Linked DNA regions of Homo sapiens: region 2 is linked to region 1. A link means that fine-mapping ties the variant in region 1 to the expression of a gene that starts in the linked region. Tissue or cell type: esophagus muscle. Region 1 holds a variant in brackets; the other region holds the start of a gene. All regions are shown on one strand. Distances are from middle to middle.

What was found. PIP is the estimated chance that this variant, and not a neighbour inherited with it, causes the effect.
Region 2: it holds the start of THBS4-AS1, and the variant in region 1 is fine-mapped to the expression of THBS4-AS1 in esophagus muscle (GTEx, PIP 0.95).

Annotation. Positions count from the first base shown.
Region 1 is chr5:79,994,670-79,999,822 of GRCh38, reverse strand. It overlaps a transcript of THBS4 not described here. Among named protein-coding and RNA genes, the nearest start is that of MTX3, 6.0 kb to the right of the region's middle. The variant T/C (reference allele first, on the strand shown) is at 2,417.
Region 2 is chr5:80,080,604-80,085,756 of GRCh38, reverse strand. It overlaps THBS4-AS1 (THBS4 antisense RNA 1), which reads left to right and starts at 2,092. Exons shown (of 8, transcript NR_109930.1): 1 at 2,092-2,257; 2 at 3,220-3,397. THBS4 (thrombospondin 4) reads right to left here. Exons shown (of 22, transcript NM_003248.6): 21 at 3,212-3,351; 22 at 2,470-2,677. The coding sequence ends at 2,616. RefSeq lists silencers at 1,364-1,578, 2,694-2,783.

The DNA of each region.
Region 1 (5,153 bases):
AGGAATTTCCATAAACTGAGGTATCAGACCAGATATATCTCATTTTACACAACTGACATGATTGTGGATTGAGAGAATTTTTATATATGGACTATTTTTAAATGCTAGGAGACTTTGCTGTTTAAAGCGATTTATGTATAAAGCAAAGAATCCTCCAATAATGAATCTTTCCTCAGGCAAATTTTAAAATGGCAGCATTTCACAAGGCAGGATTTATTTGTTCTTCATTATCGATGGCAGCCTATTAATCTGGAAAAGTAATATAACTCCCTATAAACAATACACATAATGACTTAAGTTCTGAAAATAAGATCATTTTATACACTCATTTTTAAACATTTCAGAAAATGGGATCATATCCATAACTTTTTCAATTACTACCATAAAAAAAGGAGGCATGTGAATTTACTATTTTTGCTCCCTAGTAGACTTGGCTAATCCAATGGAGGAAATATGAATAAATACATCTATTTTTTCCTGTTTGGTGTAAACAAATAAAGCTTGATATAATTATTCCTCACAGGGATAGTATAAGAAATGGATAAGCTATAAACTGTTAATGGGTTTAGAATTATAGTAATTCTTATTATGCCATAGCCCTTAATTTTAGTAATATGGCTGTAAGAACTATTGATCCAGCAAATATACATATATTCAAACAAAGCGTTTTAATATATTGCTTTTTTTTCTTAAAGAAAACTTTGAAATGTATCTTTAGCCAAACAGAGAATGCTGGATTGTTTGTAGTTTATATTAAGGATTCCAGTGATTTCCAAGGTTGACTGAATCCCAGGGGTGTAGTGGGGTTACCCAGTCCTAAGATGATTTCCTGGAGAGCATCTTTACTCCCGGCTGTCCATCCTTATTCATTGTTACTGATTCTAGAGAGCCATGTGGCCACTGAACATAGCTCAGCATCACTTCTGGGAAAACATTTAAATGGCATGGTCTTGCTGATGAAAAGATGTCCGAAATACAAAGTTCCATGAAGGCAGATGGTCCACATTTTTAGCTGCCATCTGGTTGAATGCTCTGGATATTTCATGTGCCCATTTTTTGCATCACATGCCATTACATTACCTTTAATTCTTTTTAAAAACATCTAATTTCAATTAAGTATAGACTCACAGGAAGTTGTAAAATAAATGTACAGGGATGTTTCCCCCAATTGTAACATCTACTGTAACTATTGTACGATATTAAAATCATGAAAATGACATTGGTACAAACCACAGAGTTCATTCAGATTTCACCAATTTTGGGTCTGGGTCTACGTCTGTGTTGCTATGTCTCTTTTTCCTTATAAGGTCACCTTTATTAGGCTGTTATCACATTGCTACAAAGGAATACCTGAAACTGGGTAATTTATGAAGAAAAGAGGTTTAATTGACTCACAACTCCACAGGCTCTACAGGAAACATGGCTGAGGGGGTCTCAGAAAACTTACGATCATGGTGGAAGGCGAAGGCAAAGCAGGCACGTCCCACACAGCTGGAGCAGGAGGAAGAGAGAGAAAGGGGAGATGCGACACATGTTCAAACAACCAGGACTCATGAGAACTCATTATTATGAGAACAGTAAGGGTGGAATCCCTCCTTGATCCAATCACCTCCCATTAGGCCCCTCCTCCAACAGTGGGGATTACAATTCGACATGTGATTTGGGCAGGGACACAAATCCAAACCATATCAGTTACCAATCACTGGATTTGCAGTCTATCCTAATCCAGTATGATTGGGTTGTTTTCTTGTTGTAAGTTTTAAGAGTTATTTGTATGTTTTGGACCCAAGTCCTTTAACAGATATATGTTTTGCAAATTTTTTTCTCCCAGTCTGTGGCTTCTTGTCATTCTCTTAATAGGAAATGTTGTATTTTTATTATCAATTGTATATATTTCTTTTCTGTTGACACTTCCTCTCTGACCCACTGATTACGTAGAAGTATGTTAATTTCCAAGTTTTTGGAGATTTTACTGTTATCTTTCTGTTATTGACTTCTAGTTTAATTCCAGCACAGTCAAGTAATATATTCTGCATTATTTCATTAAAAACTTTTGTTGAGGTTTGCTTTATGACTCATAATAGCCTACTTTGGTGAATGTTATATAGGCTCTTAAAAATAATGTATGTTCTGCTGTCACTGGGTGGGGCATTCCATAAATGTCTATTAGATCCTGTTGTTTAATTCATCTATATCTTTGCTTATTTTTTGTCCAGTAGTTCTATCAATTGCTGAGTGTCGGGTATAACTATAGCTTATGTTATAGTTAAAATTATGGATTTGTCTATTTCTTCTTTCACCTCTATCAGTTTTTGCTTCATGTATTTTGAAGCACTGTTGTTTGGTGCACACATTTGGGATTAATATGTTGTCTTGTGGACTGATCCATTTATCATTATGTAATGTCCTTCATATA[T/C]ACACACACACACACACATACACGCATACTACTTTTTTTTTCCTGATCAATGTTTGCATGGTATAACTTTTCCATCCTTTTAGGTTCCATCTACCAATGTCATGTTTGAAGGAAGTTTCTGAGGGACAGCATACATTTAGCTTAGGTTTTTTATCCACTCTGCCAATTTCTGTCTTTTAATTGGTGTATTGAGATCAACTTTACATTTAGAATAAGTCTTGGTATTTTAGGATTTAAGCCTGCCATTTTGTTACCTGTTTTCTGTTTATTCTCAACTTCTCATCTCTCTGACTACCTCCCCACTTCCAACCTATCACTCCCCTGCTGGCCCCTTGCTTTCTTGTGGGTTACTTGGACTTAAAAAAAAAAAAAAAAACTATTTTGATTTATTTAGTATTTTTGAGTATATCACTTGTATAGTTCTCTTAGTGGCTACTCTCAGTATTATAATATACATATTTAACATCACAGTCTATTGGTATATTAGGTTTTACCACTTTGAGTGAAGTATAGAAATAAGGCTTCCGTTATTTCCATTATTTACTTCCATTATAAGGTCCTTATTTCCACCTAGGACCCTTTACAAACCTCATTTTTTAAGTATAATTGTCCTATTTCCTCAACATAAATTCAGCACAATGTCAGATTATAATATTCTCATTTTGGTTTCATTTAATTCTTTTTCATACAAAAGACAGCAGGTTTACTATGCTGGAGGAGCAAAATGAATCCCTATCAGTATATATTACTGCCTGATCACCTTCACATAGCTACCAAATACATGAACTTGGCTTTTTATGCTTCTGGGTAACAAAGTATCTTTAGAGGAAGCCACACAACTGTACAAATTTAGCTAGACGTCAGGATGGCTGAGCCCCCATCATGCTGAAGCTACAGAGTTCATCTTCTTTCAATTCCTGGGGCAACTCCTAGGGTACCATCCCTCTTCTATCATCCTCAGGACCAACTTTTAAGTGGTACTAAAATCCGGATTTCCAAATAAAACTTTTAAAATAATTGGTAAAATATAAATTGATCTTGTTACATTCTGGGGCCAACTTTATTTCCATTTAAAAAAACTGAATGAATATTTAAAGAATATCTGTTTAAAGAGGCACCTAATCATTAGCCTGCCCATGGCTCTCCCTTGATTTATCGCCTTAATACTAATTTACATTTGACCTTTACGACTGTCAGCAATGCTCCCATTTACTTTTTATTAACCCCTGATATAGTCTCTAAATTATTCCGCCTTTTTTTTTGTGTGTATGTGTGACAGAGTCACTCTGTTGCCCAGGCTGGAGTGCAGTGGTACGATCTTAGCTCACTGCAACCTCTGCCACCTGGGTTCAAGCGACTGTCTTGCCTCAGCCTCCTGAGTAGCTGGGATTACAGGTGTGCGCCACCACATCCAGCTAATTTTTTTTTTTTTTTAGTAGAGATTGTGTTTTACCATGTTGGCCAGGCTGGTCTGGAACTCCTGACCTCAAGTGATCCTCAAGTGGTCTGCCTGCCTTGGCCTCCCAAAATTCTGGGATTACAGGTGTGAGCCACTGTGCCCAGCTGTCTTTTTAAAGCCCCAATCTCTTTCTCTCAGGCACTTTTATTTTTTTTCTAATGTAATAGGGAAATTTGAAGGTAACTGATTTATCTACTCAGCATCCCATAGTTCCCCTTGAAACTTCCTCCAGTGTCAGAAAGAGAGCATGTCTCTCATTTTCAATGCCTGCCAGCCCCGCTGCTCAAGCTCCGGATCTCAGCCTCAACTCTTAGGGCAATTTCTAGGATCCCATCCTTCTTCTCTCCAGCATCTTCAGACTTTTACTCATAATAGCCAATTTTGTCCTCATATGTGTGTAGATTCACCATGTCGTCTCTTTCAAAAACTTTGAGTCTTTCAGTCCTGTCCCATTTCTCTTCTTCCTTTATCAGTCATATTCCTCATGCTCTTAGACCTGTCCTTATCGTTTATACCCTTTTCTCCAGTAATCCCTTGCCACTGGATTTCTAACAACCTCCTCTATCAAAAATGCTCAGCGGAAGGGTGCCAAGTGACCTTCCTCCAATAATATTCAGCAGCATTTTCCACCACACTTTTACTTTATTTAATATAGTTTATGGGTTTATAAAATGCTTCTTCTTATAATGTCCATGTAACAATAGCTGTCTACCTCCCATCCTTGACTATGTAAATCCACTAATATTGTATTTGGACTTTTACTTGTCTTTACTTTCTCAAAACTATAAATTCCCATGCCTTCCAATTCTGGTTCTCAAGTTAGTCAACCAATACTCTCCCTGAGCAGTCTCCAGCTTATAACCAAACCCAGCATTCGTTTACTCATCTTCAGATTCCTTGCCATAGTCAGTCCTGTTTCTATGCCTTCACTTATATAGCACAGCCCATATGCAATGCCTTACTCTGTGCCAATCTAAATGCAACGTACCCACCCTTCGAGATCAGCTATCATCTTCTTTCATTAGGCCTTTGCCAAGCATTGCAGTACATTCAAGCCTTTGTCTAAAACCATACTAGACTTGTCTTCTTGACAAAATGGTACTTCCTAATAGTCTCTAGTTAGTTCAAATATGTGGGCCTTGTTTCATCAACTGTGCCTCTAAAAGCTTGAACATAAGTTTTTGCACAATCACGGCTCACTGCAATCTTCTCCTCCTGGGCTCAAGCCATCCTCCCGCCTCAGCCTCCCAAGTAGCTGAGACTATAGGCACACACCAT
Region 2 (5,153 bases), 86 kb before region 1:
AGGACCACAGGTGCACACCACCATGCCCAGCTCCTCAGTCTTCTCGATCTCCATGAAAAGTCAGGAGGTGAATGGGCATTGGAATGAATTCATACTAGTTGGTGAGAGACTGATGGCCACTCAGTCCTAGAGGTGTAAGATTCAAATGAGGCTCTTACTAACCTAATGGAACTGTAATAGGAATTTGAGTCATTGTGCTAAGGTTGAGTATAACAAGTATCCAAGAAGCCCAGGGAGTTACCTGGGGGAGAGCATACCACACCTGCTAGCTCATCCCGTCAGTCTGCAACTGGCTAGCTTCTCTCAAGTGCTTCCTGATTTTCACTTTTTTTTTTTTTTGTTTTTGTTTTTGGAGACACGTCTTGCTCTGTCGCCCAGGCTGGAGTGCAGTGGCACGATCTCAGCTCACTGCAACCTCCGCCTCCCGGGTTCAAGAGATTCTTGTGCTTCAGCCACCTGAGGAGCTGGGAGTATAGGCAGGAGCCACTGCACCTGGCCTAATTTTTGTATTTTTAGTAGAGATGGGGTTTTACCATGTTGGCCAGACTGGTCCCAAACTCCTGACCTCAAGCGATCCTCCCACCTAGGCCTCCCAAAGTGCTAGGATTACAGGTGTGAGCCATAGCACCCCACCCATTTTCACTTTTCTTACTTCATTTCTTATGCAAGAAATTTTCTGAAAGCCTCAAGTTTTCTACATCAGCTTCAAAAATATAAGGAGGGCCAACTAGGAATAGGACAAGGTAGAATAATCACTTGTGTGCTGATAAATATTTAACAACCAGTTCTCTGGAGCCCTGATTTGTAGTGTTTGCCAGTTTCTGTGTAAATACTCCCACCATGGCCAATTTCAAACTACCAACCGTTTAACTGGCTCACAATATTCCTAAAACTTGAATAGTTGGCTCTTATGAGCTGGTAGGAGTTGGCTTCAGCACACTGCTGGTTCTACATGCGTCTTTGTTTCTTGTTTTGCATAAATAACAAGTTTTGTCTTCCCAAAAATGTAATAAGCTCCCTAAGGGATGGAATTATGTTCTGGATCTCCTGTGGGCCCATGGTTTCTAAAATAGTTATAGACACAAAAGATTTAACCAAGAGAGTCTGTTTCCTGTGGACATACTGCGTTCTTGGGCTTGCACAGCCGACAACAGGGAGGCTGCCCCAGGGGTGGGCATGGTGTGGGTTGCTGCCTCCTTTCACCAGCCTCACTCTCATTGCCCAGGCTGGAGTACAGTGGTGCAATCTCTGCTCACTGCAGCCTCTGCCTCCCCAGCTCAAGTGATTCTCCCACTTCAACCTCCCAAATAGCTGGGACTATAGGCAAGTGGCACCACACCTGGCTAATTTTTGTATTTTTAGTAGAGATGGGTTTCGCCACGTTGGCCAGGCTGGTCTTGAACTCCTGGCCTCAAGTGATCTGCCTGCCTTGGCCTCCCAAAGTGCTTGGGACCACAGGCAAGTGCCACCACACCTGGCCCCATTGGAGTTTTTGATGTAGGAGATCAGATGTCCTGGATTACAAGGCCACACACATCTCCAGGCTGTACATGAGAGGAGGATGTCCAGAAATCCTCCAGATCTCATGCATGCACCATTGTATTTTCTCACTGTTAAAGTCATGATAAAACTGTGGTGTTTTTTTCTTCATACATGATTTAATATATCTCTAGGAATTCTGGAATAAGAAAATATATAACCGCACAGCAATATTCTTTGAAACAAAATTTCTAGAGAATTTATAAAAATTTGCTTGGATCTTGATTTACAATTGAAATACAAGAAAGGCTAGTGTACAAATTAGGCAAGTTTCTGTGCTGTACATCCAGCTACTGGTACCACAAATAGAGGATATGTTGTGACTTTTTGAGTTGAGGAGGACTTTTATGATCATGTACACTCTACTGTCCTTTAAGAGGCATTCATTCATTCATTCTTCGTTTATTAATTCAGTAAACATTTACTGGCTATTTACTACATTCCAGGTACTGTGGGGATATTGATTGTAATGACATGATCCTTTATTGTCAATATGCTTACAGTCCACTAGGGGGAGCCAAATATATAAATAAGCTTAAGAATTACGTTGAAGGGGCCAGAATAGAAGTCTGTGGAAGGTGTGGGATGGGATGACAGCATCAGAAAGAATTGGGCAAATCTGTCCCAGGACTAGGTCAGAAAAACGCCTCCCTAGGGAAGGTGCCACCCCAAACACGTGTTTCTGAGACCCCTTACCCGAAATAAGGAGGCTGCCAAGGTGAGCATGGAACGGTTAGGCGTTTTGTATGGAGCAAACTGGGGGGACCCCAGCTGAGACCTCTGGCCTGGGCCTTGTGATTCACGCATAGGCTCATCTTATCGGCCACCGGGTCTGAGAAGAAACTACCACCCTGCAAGTTAACAGGGATCCCTCCGAGAACGGGCACCTCAAAGCCTGAGCCACGTGAGAGCAATGTCTGAGCAACACGGTTTTTAAAAATGATCTCTTCTCCTTTATTGCCACATTCACATAAAACGTTTTGATATATTTGGGTTGGTAAAAGCTAAAGAAAATTGAAGTTAAAATATATATGGTTTTAGTGTTCCGAAAAGCAGTTACAGATTGCTTCCTTGGTTTAATTATCGAAGCGGTCGAAATTCTGGGTTTGAAACTCTTGGAAGTCCTCAGGGATGGTGTCTGCAATAGGAATGGGCACAGGGAGGTTAGCGAGGCTCCTTCCACCCCGGACCCCGGACCCCCGCCCGCGGCTCAGGCGTCCTGTAGGGGGCGCTGTTAGCCCGCCCAGGACGCCCCGCAGGCCCTCGCCGCCATTTTCTCCTGCAGGCTGCTTTGCAAACCGTTGGCTTAAAGCCCAGGAGTGCTCCTTCCCGGCCGTGCAGAAAATCAGCAGGCAGAATGGATTTTGCATCTGTGATTATGTTTTAACCACATGAAAATAAAGGCTTCCTGTAAATTAAATCTGACTGGATTTCTCACTGAACCCCAAACCCTAAACCATGCAGTTAAATTCTATGGGTCTTAATTTCCACATGGATAAAATAGGATAAATGTGATCTGCTTTTTACTTCTGGTACACAGGGACTATCAGGTTTTAATGACTATGTGGTATGAGCGTTGGGCTTTTGGGGGGGAAGTGCGGTATAAAAATAAGGTGGCAGTGTTTGACTAATTCTAGTAACAATGTTGAACAGTAACGAGAATGCACATTACCATTGCAGCGATACTTGAGGTTGGACCAGATGATGTTTTCTTGAGAGAAGCAGAAAACGCCAAGTCGGCCTCCACGCATTGTGGTGTCTATGGTGACGCCAGAGTCAGCCACCAACTCAGAGCCTTCATAAAATCGTACCCTGCGGACAACACGGCCGGAGGGGCCTCCATGAAATCCAACCCGGGGTAAAGTGCCCACTGTGAGGCCCAGGGGCCCCACTTCTTATACGTACCTGCGTCTTTCTTTGCTCTGTTTTAGGCTCCATTTTTCGCTGACCTGGATTGTACTGTAGCTGTTGCCACTTACTTACTAGACTGGAAGTCCTTGAGGGCAGGGACCGTGTGTGTCCGTGTGTGTGTGGAGGGGGGTGGGGGGTGTTTCTTCCCAACTTCTGTCTCTCACAAGGCCTAACATGATGTTGGTCACACTATCAAACTTGAGTTAAAAATCAAACCAAACCAAACCTGCTATCTTGAGTGAGAAAGTTTTGTGTCTTATTGTCATGTGAGTTGCCTTGTCTAGATACCATGCTTAAAAACTTTGGCTTTTCCTTTGGTCTGATTTATATCTTTTGGTGGAATCTCAGAGCAATGATTCTCCACAGGAGACAGCACTCCCTAAGTAGAGTTGGAGGAATCTGTGGGGACACTTTGGGTTGTCACAGTGGCACTGAGTGATGGCAGCCAGGGATGCTGGATGGCGAGCAATGCCCTGGCGAGAACAATCAAAACCTGTCCTGCATTCCATACACTTCTGGAGTGTTCCTCAGACACCAGGGTAGGTAAAGAGCAACTATCAGGGCCTAGAACCTGACTCACTTTCACTTGTAAACAGCAAGTATATTTTGCACAAATTTTAATATAAACTATATTTTCCAGGGTAAATTGAGAAAATTTGTTTGAAAATTAACATTCTAAAATGTGTACCATTTGAGAAATTTACATTGCTGTCATCAACCAGTGTAACAAACATTTAAGTCACTGACACAACAGTCTGTTAGAATGTCACCTTCGTAGTGATTCTAGGCATGGGTGCAAGTGTCTGTTTCATTTTGTCTTCTGGTGTGGCTGTGCTCAAATATTTAAATTATTTTGTTATAAATTATTCTTATTTCTCTATGATATTGTTAGGGCTCACATTGATTTTCTAGATTATACGTGTAGGTAGGTTGTAATTTCTATGATTCCATTTTGGGACGGAAAAGGGGGCATTTCAAAATATTTATAATAAAAAAGGGGCATTGGGCTTAATAGGGCTGAGAACATGATCATCTCACTGTGAGACAAAAAGAGTACATTTGACATAATGTCACAAAGAGAAACAAAACATGAATTTGCCCTCATGATTTTCTTTTTTCCACAAGGCTGCTTTCCTGCCCTGATGAGGAGAATGCACTCAGTACTCCTTCCTAAATATCCTACATAGGCTAGGATGGGTGTTGATCTGCAAGTTCAAATGAAGAAGAACACTATCTACATTTCAAAGACACAGCCCTAAGCCTCCTAACTCCCGAGAATACTTAAAAAACAACAACAAAAAAGTCCTATAAAGAAAGAAGTCAGACTACTTTGGCCTACATGATGATCAGTTCATGCCACGTGTAGTAGATGTCAGGCTTTGTGCTAGGCACTGGGGAGATCAAGATAAAATAATAAGCTATGGCTAGGCACAGTGGCCCATGCCTGTAATCCCAGCACTTTGGGAGGCCGAGGCGGGTGGATCACGAGGTCAGGAGATCAAGACCAGCCTGGCCAGCATGGTGAAACCCCATCTCTACTAAAAATACAAAAATTAGCCTGGCGTGATGGCGCGTGCCTGTAATCCCAGCTACTCGGGAGGCTGAGGCAGAAGAATCACTTGAACCAGGAAGGCGGAGGTTGCAGTGAGCTGAGATCACGCCACAGTACTCCTGCCTGGCAACAGAGTGGGATTCCGTCTCCA